Linked DNA regions of Homo sapiens: all the other regions are linked to region 2. The links come from fine-mapping of genetic effects on gene expression. A gene starts in region 2. Each other region holds a variant in brackets. All regions are shown on one strand. Distances are from middle to middle. Region 1 has its middle 14 kb from the start of LINC01063. Region 2 holds the start of NRROS (negative regulator of reactive oxygen species). Region 3 overlaps NRROS (negative regulator of reactive oxygen species).

Region 1 (8,179 bases), 22 kb before region 2:
CCGAGATCATGCCACTGCACTCTAGCCTGCGCCACAGAACCAAACCGTCTAAAAAAGAAAGAAAGAAAAAAGAAAAACCAAACAAAATACATATCATATATCATCAACATAGTTCATTACGCCATTATTATATCATCAGTATAGTTCACATTACACATCACATGACAGTGGTACCACTCAGACGCCATGAACCTTCTACTTGAGACAGTTAAATTCAAGAATAATTTTTTTGGCCGGGTGCGGTGGCTCATGTCTGTAATCCCAGCACTTTGGGAGGCTGAGGTGGGCGGAGCACCTAAGGTCAGGAGTTCGAGACCAGCCTGGCCAACATGGTCAAACCCCATCTCTACTAAAAATACAAAAATTAGCTGGGTGTGGTAGCCGGCGCCTATAATCCCAGCTACTTGGGAGGCTGAGGCAGGAGAATTGCTTGAGCCCAGAAGGCAGAGGTGGCAATGAGCCGAGATCATGCCACTACACTCCAACCTGGGCAACAGAGCAAGACTCCATCTCAAAAAAATAAGATTAAAAAAAAAAGGATAAATTTTACAAGACTCCATCTCAAAAAAAAAAAATTTTTTTTTTTTTTTTTTTTGAGATGGAGTCTGGCTCTGTCACCCAGGCTGGAGTGCTGTGGTGCAATCTTGGCTCACTGCAACCTCTACCTCCCAGGCTTAAATGTTTCTCCTGCCTCAGCTTCCCAAGTAGCTGGGACTACAGGCGCATGCTACCACATCCAGCTAATTTTCGTATTTTTAGTAGGGACGGGGATTCACCATATTGGGCAGGCTGGTCTCAAACTCCTGACCTTATGATCCGCCTGCCTTGGCCTCCCAAAGTGCTGGGATTACAGGTGTGAGCCATAGTGCCCAAGAATAATTTTTTTCAAGAAGTATTCAGTCTATAGAGTCCCAGTAACAGAGGTAATAAACATACACATGGTAGTATTTCAAATTCATGAATTTGTTCAGCTTGGGAGCAATGGGAATTTAGCTTTTTCTTTTATCTTTTTTTTTTTTGAGATGGAGTCTTGCTCTGTTGCCCAGGCTGGAGTGCAATGGCACAATCTCGGCTCACTGCAACCTCTGCCTCCTGGGTTCAAGCAGTTCTCCTGCCTCAGCCTCCCGAGTAGCTGGGATTACAGGAGCCCGCCATCACACCTGGCTAATTTTCGTATTTTTAGTAGAGATGGGGTTTCACCATGTTGGTCAGGCTGGTCTCAGACTCCTGACCTCTAGTGATCTGCCCACCTTGGCCTCCCAGAGTGCTGGGATTACAGGCGTGAGCCACCGTGCCCAGCCTAGAGCTTTTTCATGTTTATTTATTTATTTATTTATTTATTTATTTATTTATTTTCAGAATAACCTGAAATTTATTCTAGTTATATTGGAAAAAAGAAAATCCTCAATCACTATCCACATCATACAACATACCAATTCTGACTCAAATGCCGACCTACATTTTTTTTTTTAGACTGATGGGGTATATGCGCATGTTTGTTACATGGTTTTTTGTTTGTTTGTTTGTTTTTGTTTTTTTTCTTTTTTTTGAGACAGAGTCTTGCTCTGTTGCCCAGGGTGGAGTGCAGTAGCACGATCTCAGCTCACTGGAACCTCTGCCTCCTGGGTTCAAGTGATTCTCCTGCCTCAGCCTCCTAAGTAGCTGGGACTACAGGCACCCGCCACCACGCCTGGCTAATTTTTGTATTTTTTTAGTAAAGTCAGGGTTTCATCATGTTGGTCAGGCTGGTCTTGAACTACTGACCTCAAGTGATCCTCCCACCTTGGCCTCCCAGAGTGCTGGGATTCCAGGTGTGGGCCACCGCACCTGGCCACATGGGTTATATCGCATTATGGTGAGGACTGGGCTTCTGGTGTACCCATCACCCAATAGTGCACATTGTACCTAATAGGTAATTTTTTGCCCCTCATCCCTCCCACCCTCCCCCCTTCTGGAGTCCATTCCATCTTCATGTCCATGTGTGCCCATTGTTTAGTTCCCACTTAGAAGTAAGAACATGCAGTATTGGAGTTTCTGTTTCTGAGTTAGTTCACCTAGGATAATGGCCTCCAGCTCCACCTATGTTGCTGCAAAGGACATAATTTCATTTTTTTTTTTTTTTTGAGACAGAGTCTTACGCTGCCACCTAGACTGAAGTGAAGTGATGCGATCTCAACTCACTGCAACCTCCGTCTCCCTGGTTCAAGCGATTCTCCTGCCTCAGCCTCCTGAGTAGCTGGGATTACAGGTGCGCGCCACCATGCCCGGCTAATTTTTGTATTTTCAGGTGAGACGGGGTTTCGCCATGTTGGCCAGGCTGGTCTCACACTGCTGGCCTCAAGTGGTCCACCTGCCTCAGGCTCCTAAAGTGCTGGGATTACAGACGTGAGCCACCGCGCCCGGCCACATTTCGTTCATTTTTATGGCTGCAGTTACAGTGTTCTAGCTGGTTCTTCTGTGTCCTTTATTTCCTATAAATGATCAATGAGATGTTAACATTTGATTTAATTCAAGTTAGACACTTTTAGCAAGGATATATCCTAAGTGCTGCTGGGTGCTTCGTGCGCACCATGGTGGAAGACATATTCTGGTTGTTCTCCCATCAGTGATGCTAATATTAACCCCTGCATTAGTGCTAACAGTGTGACCCTCTGATTGTGACCCCTTGATTGTGACCCCTTTATTGTGACTCCTTTATTGTGTTTCTTTTCCTCTCTTGTGACCAAAGAGAAGTCTGCATGGTTGCTGTTGCATCACACAAATGTCAGGTGATGTTTATTTTATTTTATTTATTTTTTTTGAGACGGAGTTTTGCTCTTGTTGCCCGGGCTGGAGTGCAGTGGCGCAATCTCGGCTCACTGCAACCTCCGCCTCCTTGGTTCAAGCAATTCTCCTGCCTAAGCCTCCCAAGTAGCTGGGATGACAGGCATGCACCACCACGCCTGGCTAATTTTTTTTTTTTTTTTTTTTTTTGGATTTTTAGTAGAGATGGGGTTTCTCCATGTTGGTCAGGCTGGTCTCGAACTCCCAACCTCAAGTGATCTGCCTGCCTCGGCCTCCCAAAGTGCTGGAATTACAGGCGTGAGTCACCGCACTCAGCCAAGTGATGTTTATTTAAAAGTCACAATTGGTCAGAAAAAGAAAAGGCAGATATGTTAGGATTCTCAAGGACATATATACAGAGAAAGAGAT[A/G]TTTTTAAGGAATTGGTTCACATAGATTATGGAGGTGGGCTAGTCCAAAATCTGCAGCGTGAGCTAGCAGGCTGGAGAACTTCCTCTTCCTCCAGGGAGCAGTCTTTTTGTTTCAGGCCTTCAGCAGACTGGATGAGGCCCACTCGCATTATGGAGGGTAATCTGCTTTGCTTAAAGTCCACTGATTTAAATGTTAATCTTATCCAAAAATATCCTCACAAAGACATCCGGAATAATGTTTAACCACATACTGCTCTGAAAAGTCAATGGGTTCATTTTTTTTCTATTAAAAAACCCCACCACATATCTCGGCATTGTGGCCCAGCTAAGCTGACATGTAAAATTAAGATATCACAGCAGCGCTGAGAGATGGAGCTTCCGTCTCTGCTACTGTGTTCTGTTCTTGTGTAAATAATGTAACACTTAGGGCCTCAGTTTTCCTCTCTGTAAAACAAAGGGTTTGGACTAAAAGATCTCTAAGTTCCCTTCCAGCTTTAAAGTTCTTTTAAAAATTGTGGTAGGACAGGCATAGTGGCTCGCGCCTGTAATCCCAGCAATTTGGGAGGCCGAGGCGGGCAGATTGCTCGAGGTCAGGAGTTCGAGACCAGCCTGGCCAATATCGTAAAACCCCCATCTCTACTAAAAACAAAAATTAGCCGGGTGTGGTGGTGGGCACCTGTAATCCCAGCTACTCAGGAGGCCGAAGCAGGAGAATTGCTTGAACCCGGGAGGCGGAGGTTGCAGTGAGCCGAGATCGCGCCATTGCACTGCAGCCTGGGCGATAAGAGTGAAACTCTGTCTCAAAAAAAAAAAAAAATCGTGGTAAAATACATGTAACAAAAAATTACCATCTTAACCATTTGTAACAGTACAGTTCAACAGTGTTAAGTGTATCCCCACTGTTGTTCAATCTCCAGGAGTGTTTCATCTTTCAGAATGAACTCTCCATACACTAAACATTTATTTCTCCCTCTCCACAGCCCCTGGATGCTTTCAATGCTTGTGGGTATATTCCCATAAGCAGAATTGCTGGGTTCTGTGGTAATTCTTATTATAAGGTTTTAGGGAGCTATCACACTGTTTTCTATACTGGCAGCACCATTTTATATTCCCACCAGTAGTGCACAGGACTTCCAGGTTCTCTACATCTTTTCTAACACTTGTTGCTTTCAGGTTTGTGTGTATGTTTTTTTGTTTTTGTTTTTGTTTTGTTTTTGTTTGTTTTGGTTTTTTTTTTTTTTGAGACGGAGTCTCCCTTTATCACCAGGCTGGAGTGCAGTGGTGTGATCTTGGCTCACTGCAACCTCCGCCTCCCGGGTTCAAGTGATCCTCCTGCCTCAGCCTCCTGAGTAGCTGGGATTACAGGTGCCAGCCACCACGCCCGGCTAATTTTTGTATTTTTAGCAGAGACGGGGTTTCACCATGTTGGCCAGGATGGTCTCCATCTCTTGACCTCGTGATCCACCCGCCTTGGCCTCCCAAAGTGCTGGGGTTACAGGCATGAGCCACTGCGCCAAGCCTTGTGTGTGTGTTTTATAGCAGCCATCCTCATAGGTATAAGGTGATATCTCATTAAGATTTTGATTTGCATTTTCCTAATGATTAGTGCTGTTGAGCATCTTTTCGTAGGTTTGTTAGTCATTTGTTTATCTTTTTTGAAGAATTGTCTACTTAAGCCCTTTGCCCATTTTTAAATGAGGTTGTTTTTGTTGTTGTTGAGTTATAAAAGTTCTTTATATATTCTGGATATTAACTCCTTATCAGATGTGTGATTCACAAATGTTTTCTCCCGTCTCATGGTTTGTCTTATCCCTCTGTTGATTGCGTCCTTTAATGCACATAAACTTCTTTAAGCCTGTGAAATTTGGGGTTGCAACTCTTCCTCCCATCTGTGGCCCATGGCTGCAGGCTGAGGACCTTAACCTCTCTGTCCTAAATGAGTGGTATGCCTGCCCTCCTATCTCTTTGATGATACATATTTCAGAATAGAACTCTAAGTTCTTATTGCTGGAATCAACTTTGGAATTCTTGTCCAACCTCATTTTACTCATGGACAAACAAGGCCCTTTGTGAGCAACAGAGCTGGATCTAAAGTGTGAGCTTCTCTCTCCTTCCGGCGCTCTCTGCACTGCGATGCAACTCGACAAGTCAGCTGGTCTTTGTAATGAACTCCTCAGGAAACACAAGCAATTACAGGAAAAGACAACCAGGCTATTAAGAGGGAATTTTATTCTATTGAAACTCTGTTATGGGGAAACGTGTGTGTTTGTTATAGGTAATCTATTTACATTTTCAAAAACCTTTTTTTTTTTGGTAATTATTTTATTTTATTTTATTTTTTTATTGATCATTCTTGGGTGTTTCTCGCAGAGGGGGATTTGGCAGGGTCATAGGACAATAGTGGAGGGAAGGTCAGCAAATAAACAAGTGAACAAAGGTCTCTGGTTTTCCTAGGCAGAGGACCCTGGGGCCTTCCGCAGTGTTTGTGTCCCTGGGTACTTGAGATTAGGGAGTGGTGATGACTCTTAACGAGCATGCTGCCTTCAAGCATCTGTTTAACAAAGCACATCTTGCACCGCCCTTAATCCATTTAACCCTGAGTGGACACAGCACATGTTTCAGAGAGCACAGGGTTGGGGGTAAGGTCACCGATCAACAGGATCCCAAGGCAGAAGAATTTTTCTTGGTACAGAACAAAATGAAAAGTCTTTCAAAAACCTTTTTACTTTCTAAAAGCAACTACACATATTCTAGGACTGCAAGTGCTGTTTTCTGGTAAACGGGGAGTTGCTTAGAAACCAGGAATGAGGGATGGAGACCAACGGTCTTCTGTGGATGAAGTATAAACAGTAACTCTTCTAAGGAATCAGTACTAACCTTGGGAAGAAGATGAGCATGATTTTTCTCTGTACAACCTCTACCCCTCTTCTGATGAAAGCACCTGCTTTTCTTTAGGGCCTACTCCATCAACAGGAGCCCATGTCGTTTGGGTGGAGCTTCAGGAATCGGCATATGAGTCAGTCCAGAAAAATAGGCACATCCCACCCGCCAACCACAGTGACTGATTGCGGAAGAGGCACTTGACCCCAGGTCACACAAGGGGGTTCCGTCCTGGGACTTTTGCTGCACTGTTTTGAAAGAGGCCTCTTTCCCCCTGGTATTGCTAGACTAGCAGGCCATGGGCCCGAAACTGCCAGAACGCACCCTTGATGCCACCCGGGTAGAGTCAGGGGAGAGCAGGGCTGAGAGTTGGAGACACAGATTCCTGAAAGCATTGTTTGAGCGCGTGGATCCAGTCTTGCTTTAAATCAGACTTTTTAGTAACATGAACCGATCAATTCCTCTGCTACACCAGTTTGAGTTGGGTTTCTATCACTAGTGATTAAAAGAGTCCTCATTAGTCCAGATTGTACTTTAAGTTGCTTGTATACATTATCTGGAGGAGAGTATAAAAATAATAGGCTATAAATAGTGAGACTAATATTAAGTTATTTTAGGTAATAAAAAGTCAAACTGATGGGAATAGTTCTGTGGGGAAATTGTGTGAAGCTATGTTAACAGTAAGAAAAGTGACTAGGTTTTGGTGTAAGTAAATGCCTGGTCACACATTCGGGAAATAATAATTTAAGTTCTATTTCTAGTATGACACATTGCAAGGCAAAGAATAAGTCATTAAGGGCTCTTTAAGAACATTCAGTGCAAAGATGCTACTGCACATAACATATTAGAAAAGTATAATAGAAGTAAAACAGGTGACAACGTTTAAAAAAACAAACAAACAAAAAAAAACAGGTGGCCAGATGCAGTGGCTCACGCCTGTAATCCCAGCACTTTAGGAGGTCGAGGTGGGCAGATCACTCGAGGTCAGGAGATCAAGACCAGCCTGAGCCAACATGGTGAAACCCCATCTCTACTTAAAAAATAGAAAAAAAAAAATTAGCGGGGGGTGGTGGTGCACGCCTGTAATCCCAGCTACTCGGGAGGCTGAGGCAGGAGAATCACTTGAATCCGGGAGGCGGAGGTTGCAGTGAGCCAAGATCACACCACTGAACTCCAGCCTGGGCGACACAGCAAGGATCTGTCTCAACACAAAACAAAACAAACAAACAAAACCAACAGGTAACATTCATCCCACTGTTGCATAGAATCACAACGGGCCGGATGTATTCCGTCTGAGCTTCCAGATCCACTGTCTACCCTCTCCCACCCTGCTCTCTGCTCAGCAGACCTGTGTCCTTTGTCCTCTAGCTGGGGTCCCTAAACAGGGATCCCCGTCAGGGAGGGGAGAGTGGTCGCGTGTTTGCTCCCCTGGTTTCCTCCTGCAGGGCTTCCTCGGGGAGCTGCTTCCCTAGATCAGGGGTCACAGGGCTTCTCCAGTAGCCTCTCCAGGCGCCTGTGGACTCTCACCTTTTGGGCTCTGATCATTGTTGCCTCCCCCAGACCTAGGGAAGTAACAGCCCTTTGGGGCAAGTCCTGGGCTCCCGCTTTGCCGTGACCACACTGGGTACTAGTCCCTTTATTAAACTCTCCTCAAATTGCCTAACTTGCAGATGGCAACTGTTTCCTATGATATGACATAATATATCATAACGCACGTTCTTTTTTTTTTTTGAGACAGAGTTTTGCTCTGTTGCCCAGGCTGGAGTGCAGTGGCTCAATCTCAGCCGCTCACTGCAACCTCCGCCTCCCGGGTTCAAGCGATTCTCCTGCCTCAGCCTCCCTAGTAGCTGGGATTACAGGCACTCGCCACCATGCCAGGCTAATTTTTGTGTTTTTAGTAGAGATGGGGTTTTGCCATATTGGCCAGGTTGGTCTCAAACTCTTGACCTCAGGTGATTTACCCGCCTTGGCCTCCCAAAGTGCTGGGATTACAGGCGTGAGCCACCGTGCCTGGCCACGCAACGCACATTCTATGTCCACATTTGGAAAATTACCTTTGATTGTGAGTGTTCAGCCTCAAGAAAACAGCAAGGCAGGCAAAGTCTAA
Region 2 (8,179 bases):
CGTGAGCCACTGCGCCCGGCCTCCTCCTCCTTTCTTTGAGCAAATAGTCACCAAGCCCCTTTATGTGCATAAGATAGTATATTTTTTGGAATAACACATGACCCTGCCTCCAAAAGTTTGTAGTGGGCCAGGCATGGTGGCTCACGCCTGTAATCCCAGCACTTTGGGAGGCTGAAGCGGGCGGATCACCTGAGGTCAGGAGTTCAAGACCAGCCTGGCCAACATGGTGAAACCCCGTCTCTACTAAAAATACAAAAAATTAGCTGGAAGTGGTGGCGGGCGCCTGTAATCTCAGCTACTTGGGAGGCTGAGGCAGGAGAATTGCTTGAACCCAGGAGGCGGAGGTTGCAGTGAGCCGAGATGGCACCATTGCACTCCAGCCTGGGCAACGGGAGTGAAACTCTGTCTCAAAAGAAAAAAAAAGTCTGTAGTGTAGTTGTGGAAAAAAGGCAGAAGTCCAAAAAATTAAATCACAACACAAGAGATGTCATGAGGTCGGTGGATTATGGGAACGCTGGCACCATGTGTTCACAGGACAAGGTGGCAATTGCAGTGGGGAAGGCTTCATGGAGGAGGGGAGTCCAAGCCATGCCTTTGGGATGGGGAGGGTTGGGGTAGGCAGAAGAGGCCATTCCAAACAAGGGAACCCTCTGCCAGAGAGAGTAGAGAGTGGGGAGCGTTTGTTCTGTGTTTGGGAAAATCGTGATCAGCCCGGGCTGGGTGAACCCACCTGCAGGCCATGTGTGCAGTGATCATGAAGCATGGGCGGTAGTCGTGAAGAGAGGCTGGAGGCAGCTCAGGCCGAATGGACTTTCTCCTCCAGCCGGGAGCCGCCTGGGTTCTTGCTTTCACTTCGGATCAGAGACGCTGCTGCGCTGCTTGACACTAGACTTGCTTTATTCCTGTTGAGTGGAATACAGCAAACACCCCAATAGGTGGAGCAGGCTCAAAGCAAGAGGCACATGGCCCCCCAGAAATTCTCATGATCCTGTGGAGGGGTGAGCTTGGTCAGGGCAACCAGGCCTGGATGCACCAGGGTTGCATCTGAGAGGAAGCACCCTGGTCTCCTCTGCCTCGAAAAGCATAGTGAGGGGGGAGCCCAACCAAGTTGGAGGATGCTGAGCTGTGCAGTCGGGCTTCCAGCCGTGCTGGCACGTTCTCCTTTCAGCTGAAATCTGCATTGGTTTCAGCTGGACGTCCAGGCTTCCACCCACTGAGGCAGCGTGCTGCTAGCCTAGGGGAGGGCTGCTGGTGTTGCCAACCAACTGGCTTGTCTCTACACATCCATCAAGAGCACTGGGGCCGGGTGCAGTGGCTCACACCTGTAATTCCAGCACTTTGGGAGGCCAAGGTAGGCAGATTGCTTGAGCCCAGGAGTTTGAGATCAGCCTGGACAACATGGTGAGACCCCTGTCTCTACCAAAAATACAAAAGACATGGTGGTGTGTGCCTGTGGTCCCAGCTACTGAGGAGGCTGAGGTAGGAGGATCACCTGATCCCAAAGGTCGAGGCTGCAGTGAGCCTTGATTGCGTCACTGAACTCCAGCCTGGGCAACAGAGTGAGACCCTGTCTCAAAAAAAAAAAAAAAAAAAAAAAAAAAGAAAGAAAAAGAATTAAAAAGAAAAAAAAAAGACCATTGGTTTACTAGATTTTTTTTTTAGGGGTAGCAGCTGCCTTTCTCAAAAGAAATTCTATAGAGAATCTCCCAATGTATAAAACATATCAAAGTAGAATTCTTGGGATGTGGAGGGAATGGGGTACCTGGATCCCACCTGCCAGTCTTTAGGCATTCATGAGGAACCCTTGAACCTGCTGAACCCTGTAAAAGGGCTTTAAGCAGAGAGTGAGATGACCCAATACACATTTTAGAAAGATGCCCGTGGCAGCTAGGTGGAGTTGACATTGGACAGGGATGAGATTAGGGGCAGGGAGCGAGTTTCAGGAGGCTATGAAAGTGGTCCAGACATGAGCTGATGAGGTCTAGACCCAGGGCAACAGCCTAAGGATGAAAAGCAGGTTGGATTCCAGAAACATTTCTGAGTTAGAATCAGCAGGAATTGGGGGTCAATTAGATATGAAGGATGAAGTCTGTGAGGGCTGGACTGCCTGGGCTGAAACATACCGTAAAGTGTGACAGCCATACAGGAGAGAAACTGCTGGGACAAAGGATAAGAGTTGAGTTTGGGGCCAGGCACAGTGGCTCATGCCTGTAATCCCAGGACTCTGAGACTGAGGTGGGCGGATCACCTGAGGTCAGGAGTTTGAGACCACCCTGGCCAACATGGTGAAATCCCATCTCTACTAAAAACACAAAAATTAGCTGGGCGTGGTGGTGGGCGCCTGTAATTCCAGCTACTTGGGAGGTTGAGGCAGGAGAATCACTTGAACCTGGGAGGCAGAGGTTGCAGTGAGCTGAGATTGCGCCACTGCTCCAGCCTGGGTGACAGAGCAAGACTGTCTCAAAAAAAAAGAGAGAGAGTTGAGTTTGGGATACATCATGTTATGGTGACTCTGGGACATGTAGCAGTTGATTGACCAGTAGACAGTTAAAAATGCAAGTCTGGATCTTCTCTCGTGGAAGAGAATGTTGGAGCTAGAAATTAAAATTGGGGAGTTACCAACTGATTGGTAGACACAAAAGACATGAAGTAGAGAATGTGCATACAAGAGAGAAAGAGGCCTGAATCAAGCACCTGGGTTTGCAACAATTTGATCTTTATTTAGCTTTTTCATTGGTGTGATTGTTATTACCATTATGAGATAATATTTTATTTTTAAAATTATTTTTATTTTTTTAAAGACGGAGTCACACTCTATCACACAGGCTGAAGTGCAATGGCGTGATCTTGGCTCACTGCAGCCTCAACCTCCCTGTGCTCAGGTGATCCTCCCACCTCAGCCTCCCAAATAGCTGGGACTACAGGTGCGTGCCACCAGGTCTGGCTAAGTTTTAAATTTTTTGTACATATGGAGTCTCAGTATGTTGCCCAGGCTGGTCTTGCACTCAGGCGGTCCACCTGCCTTGGTCTGCCAAAATGCTAGGATTACAAGCCTGAGCCTCTGTGCCCGGCCATGAGTGAATATTGTAGAAAGCAGAGACAATGTGCCAGATGTTTGGAGTGAAAAGGACTTGGCTCCTGTTCTCTTAGGATGGACAATGCTACACACAATCCCAAATCACAGGCTATAAGAGAGGTGACCCAATCCTGCAGGACAGTTCAACGTTTCAGATTTGAAGGGGAGTGAGAGAGATCAGAACTGGAGGCCCCTTGTCTGAGCCCCCGACTATGGTGGTCCACGTCACTCCACACGCAGCAGGCACTGTAAATATTTCACCTTCTCTAGACGACAGTAGTTCCTCGAGAACAGGAGCGCTGGGGTAATGCATATGAAGCTCTTAGCACAGTGTCTGGCGCTGCTTCAATGATGGCTATATGATCAATTATTCTTACTCCTTTGAATTCTTGGCAAGAGCTGGCAGGGAACTTTGTACACATCAGGTACAAAAAAACCCATCCGCGCAGTCTAAGATCAAGAAGCTCTTGGCACTCTCTGACAGTCCTCGACAAAGCAATTCCCCTTCTTTCTAACACAGGGTCCGTAAAGGAGATGATCCACAAGGACCGGCTGAGTGGATAAGAAGACAGACTGGCTGAGCGGCTGACCCTGCCAGACGACAGGCTGTGCCTCTTTACCACGGTGCTGCCGTTCCCAAAGTCGGCCTCAGCTTGGTCCTTGGCTGGAAGCTCGTAGCAAAGTTTCTGGGTCAGCAGACCTCATAGGCAAGGGGCCCCTAGCTGGCCGCCCCCAGCCCTGCCAAGGCACCAACGCAAGAAAGCCGGGGGAGCCTCGGTCGCATTGCTGGAAGATCGTCTAAACATCCCCGCTGCTCGGCCGCTAGGCCGGCAGGTGTTCGGGCCCCGCTCCCCCGGCCCGCCCCACCCCCGCGCCCGCGCCGCGCTTCCCTCTAAGAGGCCGGGTCTGAGTGAGCCTGTGCTGAGTCGCCGAGCAGCCCGCTCTCCATGTGACTTCAGTTTCCGTCCGTTCCTTCCGCTGGTGCTAAAATAATCTGATGCCCCACAGCAAGGAGGTAGCCCAGCCCCGCGTTCGGCTGCTCTCGAGGAGGCCGGAGCCCCCGGAGACGATGCGCCCCGCGCAGCCGCCTGCGCCTGCGGGAGCCGTGAGTATTTCCCGCGTGGGGGCGTCCCCGGGGCACAGCCGGGGCCCTTCTCCAGGTGGGCGAGCTCGAGCGAGGTTGGGTGGTAGGAGGTCAGCGTCCGCGGCCCGCAGCTCAGGGCTCACGAGGAAGCTGTGGCTTGCTGCGTCCAAGCGCCGCCGCTTTTGTGCTGGGCGTGGGGGCTGCAGCTCTGGGTGGAGGTGGAAATACCTCCCTCCAGGAGCACTTAGAGCTGAGAAAGGTGGTGCGACGTAGTGGAAACCACGAGGGCTTCAGATTCAGACGTGGGTTTGAGTCCTGGCTCTGCAGGGAGCATGTGAGCAGACAGTTAAGGTTTCTGAGCCTCAGTTTTCTCATCTGCAAAATGGGAACAGAGATGCTCCCTCCCTGGGCTGGGCGACTGGATATGATGAGACCGCTCTGTGCACACTCAGCATGCTGAGCACTGGGCTCTCCTTTCCTGTCCCACAACGTGGATTGAGAACCACTATCTCATAGATGAAGACACTAAGACTGGTTAACAGCAACACCTATCACAGATGCCGTCCACGTGCCAGGCCTGTCCAAGGCCCTGGGGATACAGCTGTGAAAATGTGCAAAGCCCCTTCTCCCACAGAACGTTTGTCCTTGGGAGATTCACTGGGGCTCTGTGACTTGGATCTTAGCCTAGACTTAGATCCATGGCTTATCAGAGGGAGACTAACAGGAGGGCGACGAAGACTCGGACGCTCTTCCGTAGCCCTCGTGGCCCCTGCATGTGGGCCGGCTTCTGAAGGGGTCAGCGTACTTCCCCACGTACCCAGGAGCTAGACGGAAAGAAGTAAGGAGCCACTGGTGTGGCTTTGTGCTGCCTCTGAGAGAAGGTGGACACGTGCCAGTTGGTGGCTGCGACTGGAGGAGGCCGGATCGGGGGTCCTAGGAATGGAGCCTCTCCGGACAGGGCTGGTCGGGGCTGCTGTGCTTCCCTAGGGGCTGAGGGGACCCCACCGGAGGCTTCTTCATGATGGGCACAGCCCGTTAGGAGTCTGGGTGCTAGAAACATTCAGCGTCTGTGGCCCTCCATGCTTTCCTGTGTGCTCCTCACCTGCCGGCTGTGACACACAGACTGTTCTGTGGATGCTGAGGGTTTGCTGGGCTTTACATTTACAATACGTATTTATTCTCCTCACACACCTCTTAGGTTTGTGTGTGTGTGCCCGAGAGTCCCTAAAGGAGATTATAGAATCATGGGCCCAGGAAAAAACCTTAACTCCTGCCTTTAGGTTAAAAAAACAAAACAAAACAAAACAAAACAAAACAAACTCAGCTTCACAAAGAAGGCACTTTTTAAAAATATATATATTTATTTATTTATTTTTAGAGACAGGCTCTTGCTCTGTTGCCCAGACTGGAGTTCTGTGGCACGATCACAGATCACTGCAGCCTCAAACTCTTGGGCTCAAATAATGCTCCTGCTTCAGTCACCTGAGGAGCTAGGACAACAGGTGCACACCACCATGCCAGCTAATTTTTAAAATTTTTTTGTAGACACAGGATCTTGCTGTGTTGCCCAGGCTGGTCTCAAACTCCTGGGCTCAAGCAATCCTCCTGCCTTGGCCTCCCAAAGTGCTGGGAGTGTGGGCGTGAGTCACCGCCCCCAGCTTTCATGTAATGAGTGCCCTCATGGGAACTTCATGAAAACACATTCTCTTATAGTTTTTAAATTCATCATCCAAGAGTTCCTGCTCTTTGATGATGAGACATACCTGGTAGACTCCAAAACAGAGAGCAGACGCCTAGTATCTTTGTTCTGGGGTGTGCATTAAGAGTACATTGACCTGTCTGTCTCCAGTCTTGACTCTTTTGGAAGAGAGATGCTAGTACTGATGACAACCTGCATTCTGGCTGCGGTGTGCGTCCACACTGCACAGTGTGCACCAGACTCTCGTATGGACAATGACTGTCCCTCACATCAGGCGCAGATCCATTTTAGAGCCTCAGAAGTCAGGAGAGGGTGGACTTTCAACCACGACTGAAAACACTGTCTTTCTTAGGACATGCTGTGTGTATGACACACTTACAGATGTCTGTGCTCACTGATGCTTGTTGATGTGTCATCGCACATCAGTGACAAACATTTGTCATGTTTTTGCCTTTGGTGGAACTTCTTTATTATACTCACTTTCCTCCCAAACCATTTTTCTCAACTTCATCATGAAGCAAATGTCATGTGGTCATTCTGTGATGGGGCTCAGGGCTAGGTTAGGTGATGATTTCTGAAAGCTCAGAGACGTGAAGGAAAAAGGACATCAGTGCTTGGATCTTAGCTCTTATAAGCCTCACGTGCAACAATAAACCCGAGTTCAAGAATCAGATTCTTAGATAGATTGGTTTGGTAGCAAATGACAAAAAACCAACGTAAATATGCTTCGGCAAAAAAGAAAAAAAAAAAGGATTTATTGTTTCAAATAACTGAAAAGTGTATGGGCAATAGTTTCAGGCATGGCTGAGTCCAGATGCTCAAATGGCATTGCCAGGAATCCATCTGTCTCCTTTCCTCAGCTTTGCCTTCCTCTCTGTGGGCCTCTTTACCAGGCAAGTCCCGGAGCTGGTGGCAAAGATGGCTGCCTGCAGCTCCAACTATATTCCTACTGGTTTGGCATCTGAAACAGAAAGAGCAAGTCTCCTTTCCATGAGTTCTAGCAACTGCCCGTGGATTGATTCTCATGGGCTTGGCTTTTATGATGAGCCTGTTAGGAAAATGGAGTGCTCTCACGGGCCCAGCCTTACTCATAGGCCCCGCCCTGGAACCAGGAGCTGGGATCAGACCCGAACACACAGACTTTTGAAGAAAGGAAGGGGGTTGGTTGCACAGCCGCGTAAGGGTACTTAACACTACTGAATTGTACACCTAAAAATGGTTAAGATGGTCACTTTCGGCCGGGCGCGGTGGCTCATCCCTGTAATCCCAGCACTTTGGGAGGCCGAGGCGGGTGGATCAGGAGGTCAGGAGTTTGAGACCAGCCTGGCCAAAATGGTGAAACCCCGTCACTACTAAAAATACAAAAATTAGCTGGGTGTGGTGGTGAGTCCCTGTAATCCCAGCTACTCAGGAGGCTGAGGCAGGAGAGTCGCTTGAACCTTGGAGGCGGAGGTTGCAGTGAGCCGAGATGATTGTGCCATTGCACTCCAGCCTGAGCCACAAGAGCAAAATTCTGTCTCAAAAAAAAAAAAAAAAAGATAATCGCTTTCATGTTTTGTGTATTTTACTACAATTAAACATTTTCTAAAGAAAAAAAGGAAAGAAAGGGGGTGATTTTCTCAAAGGGGAATTGAGGGGTTGTTACCAGAAGGAGAAACGAATGTGAGTGAGTAGGCGAAACCAACCAATTTCCAGAGCGAACGGAGTCAGGTGCTGACCCCAAGCCAATGTGTCTTTTCTCACTTTAATGCCTGAGGGATTTCAGAGTGAACAGAGTGAAGAAAGGAGGAAGTGGAACCTCGTCATGGTCCTCACCCACGAGGTGGGCGCGAGGAGCAGGCTGGTACTGGATAGGCTCAATGTGGCCACAAAGCCTGGTGAGGTCACAGGGACTCCCCTCCTCCAGCCCCAACCCAAAAGGTTGCCTAAGGCAGGTGCTGCGCCATGTGCACCAAGCAACTTTCTGCTGCCACCTCCAAGAAAGAGAAGGACCGGGAGGGGATTTCTCCCAGGAGAGAGAGCACATAACGCTCCGTCTTTTCACCTGTCTGTTCTCAAGCAGGACCTAAGTGTCTAAGGCAACCCCACACCCACAGTGCCTGGCAGGGGCCCACCCATGGGTACACATCGTGTTCTCCTAAGCTCATGTCACTCCATTTCAGATGTCAACTGGACATGGACTCCTGCTGATCCTCCCTACTGTCATTCACTCCTCTCCTGCTCCAGCCCTGATCCCTGAGGTCTCTTCTACCCTTGCAGTGTCTCCCCTCTGTGGTCCTCAGGCACCAAGGCTGAGCCCTTTCCCTCGGCCCTGCAGTGT
Region 3 (8,179 bases), 22 kb after region 2:
AGAGTACTTTGTAATTATAATGCAATCCCAATCAAAATACCAAAGAGGGAAGGGGGATGTGGAAAGAACTTGGCAAATCCTTTCTAACGTTCGTCTGGAAATTAGAGAAACCCAAATGCTCAACAATAGGAGATGATTAATTAGATCATCCTAATAATTATAGCTCACATTTATTAAGCACAGTAAATGTGTTTCACCTCAACAGTCACACTTGATCCTGAAAAAAAACGCTATGCGAAAATGACGAGTATAATTTCGGTTTTACAGGCAGGGTAATGGAGGTCTCTTTCGGTTCCGTAACCATCCAAAGGTCACCCATTTGATCAAAAGCAGAGCCACGAAGCATTGGCCCTGGAACTCTTGCTCTCAGCCACTGTGCTATTCATGAGATGAATGCATATGCTTCCTAAAAAGATTATGATCACATTTATTTGTACTGCCAAGGCAATAAGTCCGTCATACTTTATTGACAGGGGGAGAAAAATAGGTTACTGAACAGTTTGCACAGTATGGTCTTATTTTTGTTTTTTAGACAAAGGTAGGTAATATCTTACGAAAGATCCAGAAAGACATGGAACAGAAGGTGACTGGTGTTTCTCTGAGAGAGAGGCGGAGGTGACAGAAGAGTTGAGGTTTCCATATGTCAATACAGTATCAATGTTTAATTATTGGAAGGTTTTATTTTAATTATCAGATAAAGAACCCGAGGGGCCAAGAAATTCCACTGCTAGTGGTGGTAGAGCCGAGATTCAGATTGAGTCTGTCCTCCAAACCTGTGCTTCTTCTAACCTCTCTCTCGGGATTTTCCTCTTCTGTTGCCGTGCTGCACTTGCCCTCTGGGATTGAACCCACAATTGTAGGCAACCACTGCCCTTGTATTACTGATAAACTTGTGCAAACGAATGCCATTGCTCCTCTATCTTATCACTTAAAACTTCTTTCTGGCCGGGCACGGTGGCTCACGCCTGTAATCCCAGCACTTTTGGGAGGCCGAGGCAGGCAGATCACCTGAAGTCAGGAGTTCGAGACCAGCCTGGTCAACATGGTGAAACCCCGTCTCTACTAAAAATACAAAAAAAGTTAGCTGGGCGTGGTGGCATGTGCCTGTAATCCCAGCTACTCGGGAGGCTGAAACAGGAGAATTGCTCGAACCCAGGAGGCAGAGATTGCAGTGAGCTGAGATCACACCATTGCACTCCAGCCTGGGTGACAGGGTAAGACTTCATCTCAAAAAAACAAAAAACAAAAAAACCATTTTTGTCCTAGACACCTAAATAACATCCTATGGCTGATGGTTGTTTTTGCCAATTTTGCAAAGCGTGGGGTGAATTAAAGTATCCTGCACGTGTGCTTTCTGCAGTGCGACCAGGGTGGCCTCGTCCCTCCCGCCTCCTTATTCTGCATGATCAGAGTAGAGCCCTGTTTAGGAAAAGCACTGAACTGGGCATTCAGAGCCCTGGGCTCCAGTCCCGGCACAGCCACTGGCTCTTCACTTCTCCCCTCCAGACCCACTTTACTTCCCTGTACAATTCAGGATGGTGAAAGCTCTCAAGTCCTTTTTTTTTTTTTTTTTTTTTTGAGATGGAGTCTTGCTCTGTCGCCCAGGCTGGAGTGCAGTGGTGCAGTGGTGCAGTCTCGGCTCACTGCAATCTCTGCCTCCTGGGTTCAAGCAATTCTCTGCCTCAGCCTCCGGAGTAGCTGGGATTACAGGTGTCCACCACCACACCCGGCTAGTTTTTTGTATTTCCTGTAGAGACAGGACCTCACCATGTTGGCCAGGCTGGTTTTGAACTCCTGACCTCAAGTGATCCACCTGCCTCGGCCTCCCAAAGTGCTGGGATTACAGGCATGAACCACCGTGCCCGGCCTTGTCTATCCTATTTTTAAAATGAACATCTCTAGAGCCATCCCCGGCGGTTGCAGGGACAGTCTGATAAGTGAACTAAGTTTCTATGCATAAATGCTTGCCTCTGGGCCTCCTCGCTGCTGACCGGTGTGGTTTTGGCCGCAGGTGGGTGGAGCCGCTGACTGCCGAGGGCAGAGCCTCGCTTCGGTGCCCAGCAGCCTCCCGCCCCACGCCCGGATGCTCACCCTGGATGCCAACCCTCTCAAGACCCTGTGGAATCACTCCCTCCAGCCTTACCCTCTCCTGGAGAGCCTCAGCCTGCACAGCTGCCACCTGGAGCGCATCAGCCGCGGCGCCTTCCAGGAGCAAGGTCACCTGCGCAGCCTGGTCCTGGGGGACAACTGCCTCTCAGAGAACTACGAAGAGACGGCAGCCGCCCTCCACGCCCTGCCGGGCCTGCGGAGGCTGGACTTGTCAGGAAACGCCCTGACGGAGGACATGGCAGCCCTCATGCTCCAGAACCTCTCCTCGCTGCGGTCCGTGTCCCTGGCGGGGAACACCATCATGCGGCTGGACGACTCCGTCTTCGAGGGCCTGGAGCGTCTCCGGGAGCTGGATCTGCAGAGGAACTACATCTTCGAGATCGAGGGCGGCGCTTTCGACGGCCTGGCTGAGCTGAGGCACCTCAACCTGGCCTTCAACAACCTCCCCTGCATCGTGGACTTCGGGCTCACGCGGCTGCGGGTCCTCAACGTCAGCTACAACGTCCTGGAGTGGTTCCTCGCGACCGGGGGAGAGGCTGCCTTCGAGCTGGAGACGCTGGACCTGTCTCACAACCAGCTGCTGTTCTTCCCGCTGCTGCCCCAGTACAGCAAGTTGCGGACCCTCCTGCTGCGCGACAACAACATGGGCTTCTACCGGGACCTGTACAACACCTCGTCGCCGAGGGAGATGGTGGCCCAGTTCCTCCTCGTGGACGGCAACGTGACCAACATCACCACCGTCAGCCTCTGGGAAGAATTCTCCTCCAGCGACCTCGCAGATCTCCGCTTCCTGGACATGAGCCAGAACCAGTTCCAGTACCTGCCAGACGGCTTCCTGAGGAAAATGCCTTCCCTCTCCCACCTGAACCTCCACCAGAATTGCCTGATGACGCTTCACATTCGGGAGCACGAGCCCCCCGGAGCGCTCACCGAGCTGGACCTGAGCCACAACCAGCTGTCGGAGCTGCACCTGGCTCCGGGGCTGGCCAGCTGCCTGGGCAGCCTGCGCTTGTTCAACCTGAGCTCCAACCAGCTCCTGGGCGTCCCCCCTGGCCTCTTCGCCAATGCTAGGAACATCACTACACTTGACATGAGCCACAATCAGATCTCACTTTGTCCCCTGCCAGCTGCCTCGGACCGGGTGGGCCCCCCTAGCTGTGTGGATTTCAGGAATATGGCATCTTTAAGGAGCCTGTCTCTGGAGGGCTGTGGCCTGGGGGCATTGCCAGACTGCCCATTCCAAGGGACCTCCCTGACCTACTTAGACCTCTCAAGCAACTGGGGGGTTCTGAATGGGAGCCTCGCCCCACTCCAGGATGTTGCCCCCATGTTACAGGTCCTGTCTCTCAGGAACATGGGCCTCCACTCCAGCTTTATGGCGTTGGACTTCTCTGGGTTTGGGAATCTCAGGGACTTAGATCTGTCGGGGAATTGCTTGACCACCTTCCCAAGGTTTGGGGGCAGCCTGGCCCTGGAGACCCTGGATCTCCGTAGAAACTCGCTCACAGCCCTTCCCCAGAAGGCTGTGTCTGAGCAGCTCTCGAGAGGTCTGCGGACCATCTACCTCAGTCAGAATCCATATGACTGCTGTGGGGTGGATGGCTGGGGGGCCCTGCAGCATGGGCAGACGGTGGCCGACTGGGCCATGGTCACCTGCAACCTCTCCTCCAAGATCATCCGCGTGACGGAGCTGCCCGGAGGTGTGCCTCGGGACTGCAAGTGGGAGCGGCTGGACCTGGGCCTGCTCTACCTCGTGCTCATCCTCCCCAGCTGCCTCACCCTGCTGGTGGCCTGCACTGTCATCGTCCTCACTTTTAAGAAGCCTCTGCTTCAGGTCATCAAGAGCCGCTGCCACTGGTCCTCCGTTTACTGACCTGGCTGTGTGCCAAGACTCGAAATTCGGTCCGCACACAACAGGACACTTTCTCTGCCAGCTTTCAAGATGTGATGCAGAGGCCAAGTCTGACGAATTGAAGTTTCAATTAAAATTTAATATGTTTCCATTCCTCATCGCCCACCCCACCCCCGCCCCCACCACCGCCCAAGTTCTTTTTCCATCATTATAATTCATCCTCATTATCTTGGTAAAATATTTATTAAGTGACTTTTTCAGAAATAAAAGGCAACGTGTCTCATAAATATTTTTTAAATTAAATGCAGCTTGTGTTTTTTTTTATTGTTCCTTGGTTTCCCTTGGATTATTTTGTAGTGTCCTCCCCTTGGTGACATCCATGGAGCCGAGGGTAGCAATTCAATGCAACCTACTGGAAAAAGAACTCCAAGAGCAGGTGCTAGAGATGGTGAGTCAGTGCCCTGGGGACTCAACAGGGACAAGGATTTCATAGCAGGACGACGACACAAGGATTTCATAGCAGGACGACGACAACAAAGCATTTCAAAGCACAGCTGGAGGGTCTGACATAAGATCATAAGATGAGGCCTCTCACCTGCTGCGTGACTGGCCACCGCCGTCAGAACGGTCCTGTGATCCTAGCACTTTGGGAGGCTGAGGCGGGTCACCTGAGGTCAGGAGTTCGAGACCAGCTTGGCGAACATGGTGAAACCCCGTCTCTACTAAAAATACAGAAATTAGCCGGGTGTGGTGGCGGGCGCCTGTAATCCCAGCTACTTGGGAGGCTGAGACAGGAGAATTGCTTGAACCCAGGAGGCGGAGGTTGCAGTGAACCGAGATCACACCACTGCACCCCAGCCTGGGCGATGGAGCAAGACCCCGTCTCAAAAAATAAACAAATAAATAAAATAATGGACCTCTAGCTGGGCCCTCTCCAGGTGCCCTGGCTTCATACCCGGAGTCTCTGGCAGACAGACATGACTCTTCCATGGAGAAACCAAGAGAAT[A/G]ATAACTGGCCCCGAGTTTATCCAGTCAGTAAGCCGACTGCCAGAGACAGTCCTCGTTCTGAAGGGAAGTAAAGAGGAATGCAGAAAGGAATGAATTCTGCTCACTTGTGAACCCTCCTAACTCTTCACAAAAAATTGCTTACAACTTCATAGCAGATGTTCAGTATCTGTATTCACTAGATTCTTAGCTTCCCTTCTCCCTCTGTTCAATGACTAACGAACAATGTCTGTGCTCCTCTCTGAGAGAAAAGATAACAAGGACACAGCCCCCGTCCTCTGGTAGTTTAGAATTTACACTGTCCTCAAAGTTTTTAATCCCTGCTTACTAAATCATAAAGGAATTAAACGCAATGGGGGAGGGATGGGGAGGGAGAGAGGCTAGAAATCCCACAAACTGATAGCTATTACCATGCAGACTAACTGTCAGCAGAAATATTTAGGCAAATCAAAGAGATAAAATCAGTGGTCTTACTCTGACACAGCAGAAACTTCCCTTGGATGCTCTACAGAGGTTTGAACAAGGCCATCTCAGGCCCCACATTCAGTAGCGTTAGCGGCAGGTCCTGTTAGGCTTTGCCATCTCAGGCCCCACATTCAGTAGCGTTAGCGGCAGGTCCTGTTGGGCTTTGCCCTTGCTATGACCCCACCGTTCCCTCCTGCACTGCGCCCAGCCTAGTGTCGTGGATGTCTCTCAGGTTGCCTTGAAGCCTTCCGGGCAAGTCCCATCAGCCAACGCAACATCAGACCAGACTCTCCTGATTTCCTCTCCCCATCAACAAAACCCTTCTCTGGGGTCCTGCTGTTTCCTAATGTGAACACTAGCTAATTAGACAAATGCATCTATCTGTGGCTGGTGCACTGACGGCTTCTCTTGAGTTAATGCGTCACCTCTGGTATCCATCAGTGTTCTTAGTCTCATGCAACTGAAGACGGTTCTGTCTGATTTAAGTAGCTTACGCATTTAGTAAGAGAATATTAGTAAGCTCTGGACTCTCGGGAAGGCTGAGGAACAGGCTTGGAAAATGGGCAGGAACAGAAGATGCTGTGTAGCAATTGGGACCAGCTGGTCTCGAACTCCTGACCTCAGCCCAAACCATGCCATGAGCAGTAACTGTGGGAGCATGGCTGCAGCCACCCCTGCCACCTTCTGCTGAAATAAATGCTCCCCAAATTCTGCTGCATCGCCAGCTCCTGACCGTGGTCATGTGCCCCTGCCCTGAGTACAAGAAGGACTGGCACGGCAATGCTGTACCCCTTGGCGAGGTGTCTATGGCAGAAGATAGGCTCCGTGTCCTCCAAATTCTTATGAGGGGGCAGAGTTCTTGAAACCTAAGAAAGGAAGTGAGACGTTGAGCAAACAAAATGAATGAAAAGTAAGTCCCGTATCCTTTTATGGCTGCATGTACATTTTATTTATTTATTTATTTATTTATTTATTTATTTATTTATTAGCCTGAGTCTCGCTTTGTTGCCCAGGCTGGAGTGCAGTGGCGTGATCTCTGCTCACTGCAACCTCTGCCTCCCAGGTTCAAGCGATTCTCCTGCCTCAGCCTCCTGAATAGCTGGGACTACAGGCGCCCGCCACCACACCCAGCTAATTTTTGTATTTTTAGTAGAGACACGGTTTCACCATGTTGGCCAGGCTGGTCTTGAACTCCTGGCCTCAGGGTGATCCGCCCACTGTGGCCTCCCAAAGTGTTGGGATTACAGGCGTGAGCCACCGCGCCCAGGCAGCGTGTACATTTTAGCAGGCAACTTCTGGAAGCAAATTCTTAGCACAAAGAAATGACTCAAATGATGGAAACTTCAGACAGAAACTCAGGGCAGTCGGGGAGATAGTTTGGGGTTCAGCAGGACTTTTGAAGCCCCTCAAGTCACACCATGTAGCTGACCACCCACTCTTTCTGTTCTTGGGGTCCAGCCCGGGAGGATGACAAATTGAGCCCCAGCCCTGCCTGTGACTGTGACTTTAGAAGGCTGTGGGCTTTCCTTCCTAGTGTTTTCCATCACAAGGATCCAAAGGTGATTTCCTGCCGGGTGCGGTGGCTCATGCCTATAATCCCAGCACTTTGGGAAGCTGAGGTGGGTGGATCACCTGAGGTCAGGAGTTCGAGACCCGCCTGGCCAATATGGTGAAACCCCATCTCTACTAAAAATACAAAAATTAGCTGGGCGTGGTGGCGTGTGCCTGTAGTCCCAGCTACTCGGGAGGCTGAGGCAGGAGAATCGCTTGAACCTGGGAGGCGGAGGTTGCAGTGAGCAGAGATGGCGCCACTGTAGTCCAGCCTGGTCGACAAGACAAAATTCCGTCTCAAAAAAAAAAGGATGATTTTCTAGGTTTCTCTCAGTATGCGGAAAGTTACATAGGGAAGGTGCTTTCTGCCTTCAGTGCTCAGCTATGGTTCCCCCAGCAAATTCTGTCCCCTTTCCCTGCTTCTCCCACTCCGACCTGGACCCATAGGAGAACCTACTGGCGAGGGAAGGACCCACAAAGCCTGTTACCAGAGTTCTTCGGTGGGGCCAGAATGGTGTCTGCCTAAGAGCTCCCATTCAGCCAGGTGGGGCACCACGTGGTTCTTCCTCAGTGGGTGGGCAGTAGGGGGCCATTTCCGGTTGCCACATGCCAGAATATTCACACAGGAGGATATTCAGAATCACAGATAAATCATGTCAGAGACTGGTCTGTGAACATGAGTAACAGTAACTTAGATTTTGGAAATCCAGTCATAAAACAAAAGCTGAAGGTTTTTCTGGAGGCATTTAAGTTAGGGATCAATTGATTTTTTTCCGTTCTTTCTTTTTTTGAGATGGAGTCTTGCTCTGTCACCCAGGCTGGAGTGCAATGGCGCAATCTCGGCTCACTGCAAACTCCGCCTCCCGGGTTCAAGCGATTCTCCTGCCTCAGCCTCCTGAGTAGCTGGGATGACAGGTGCCTGCCACCACGCCCAGCTAATTTTTGTATTTTTAGTAGAGATGGGGTTTCACCATGTTGGCCAGGCCGGCCTCGAACTCCTGACCTTGTGATCCGCCCGCCTCGGCCTCCCACAGTGCTGGGATGACAGGCTGAGCCACGGCGCCTGCTGATTTCTTTTTTTAAACGACCCCAGTTGCAAGCAATTGGACAAACTCTAATCCTTGGTTTGTATCACTGGTCATATCACTTTTTATTTATTTAATGTGCCAGATAACTTCCATTTGCCCCTCCAGATCT

Evidence for each region. PIP is the estimated chance that this variant, and not a neighbour inherited with it, causes the effect. A credible set is the group of variants that fine-mapping cannot tell apart.
Region 1: its variant is the best candidate, but not a certain one, in a credible set for the expression of NRROS in whole blood (INTERVAL, PIP 0.76).
Region 3: its variant is the best candidate, but not a certain one, in a credible set for the expression of NRROS in whole blood (INTERVAL, PIP 0.82).

The regions. Positions count from the first base shown.
Region 1 is chr3:196,614,099-196,622,277 of GRCh38, forward strand. No RefSeq gene overlaps it. Among named protein-coding and RNA genes, the nearest start is that of LINC01063, 14 kb to the right of the region's middle. RefSeq lists an enhancer at 6,116-6,185. The variant A/G (reference allele first, on the strand shown) is at 3,193.
Region 2 is chr3:196,635,695-196,643,873 of GRCh38, forward strand. NRROS (negative regulator of reactive oxygen species) reads left to right here and starts at 4,000. Exons shown (of 3, transcript NM_198565.3): 1 at 4,000-4,181. RefSeq lists silencers at 3,637-4,066, 4,087-4,186 and enhancers at 4,637-4,756, 5,925-6,274, 6,295-6,354, 7,799-7,848, 7,979-8,179.
Region 3 is chr3:196,657,741-196,665,919 of GRCh38, forward strand. NRROS (negative regulator of reactive oxygen species) reads left to right here. Exons shown (of 3, transcript NM_198565.3): 3 at 2,012-4,264. The coding sequence ends at 3,982. Among named protein-coding and RNA genes, the nearest start is that of NRROS, 22 kb to the left of the region's middle. RefSeq lists enhancers at 1,934-2,509, 7,687-8,179. The variant A/G (reference allele first, on the strand shown) is at 4,969.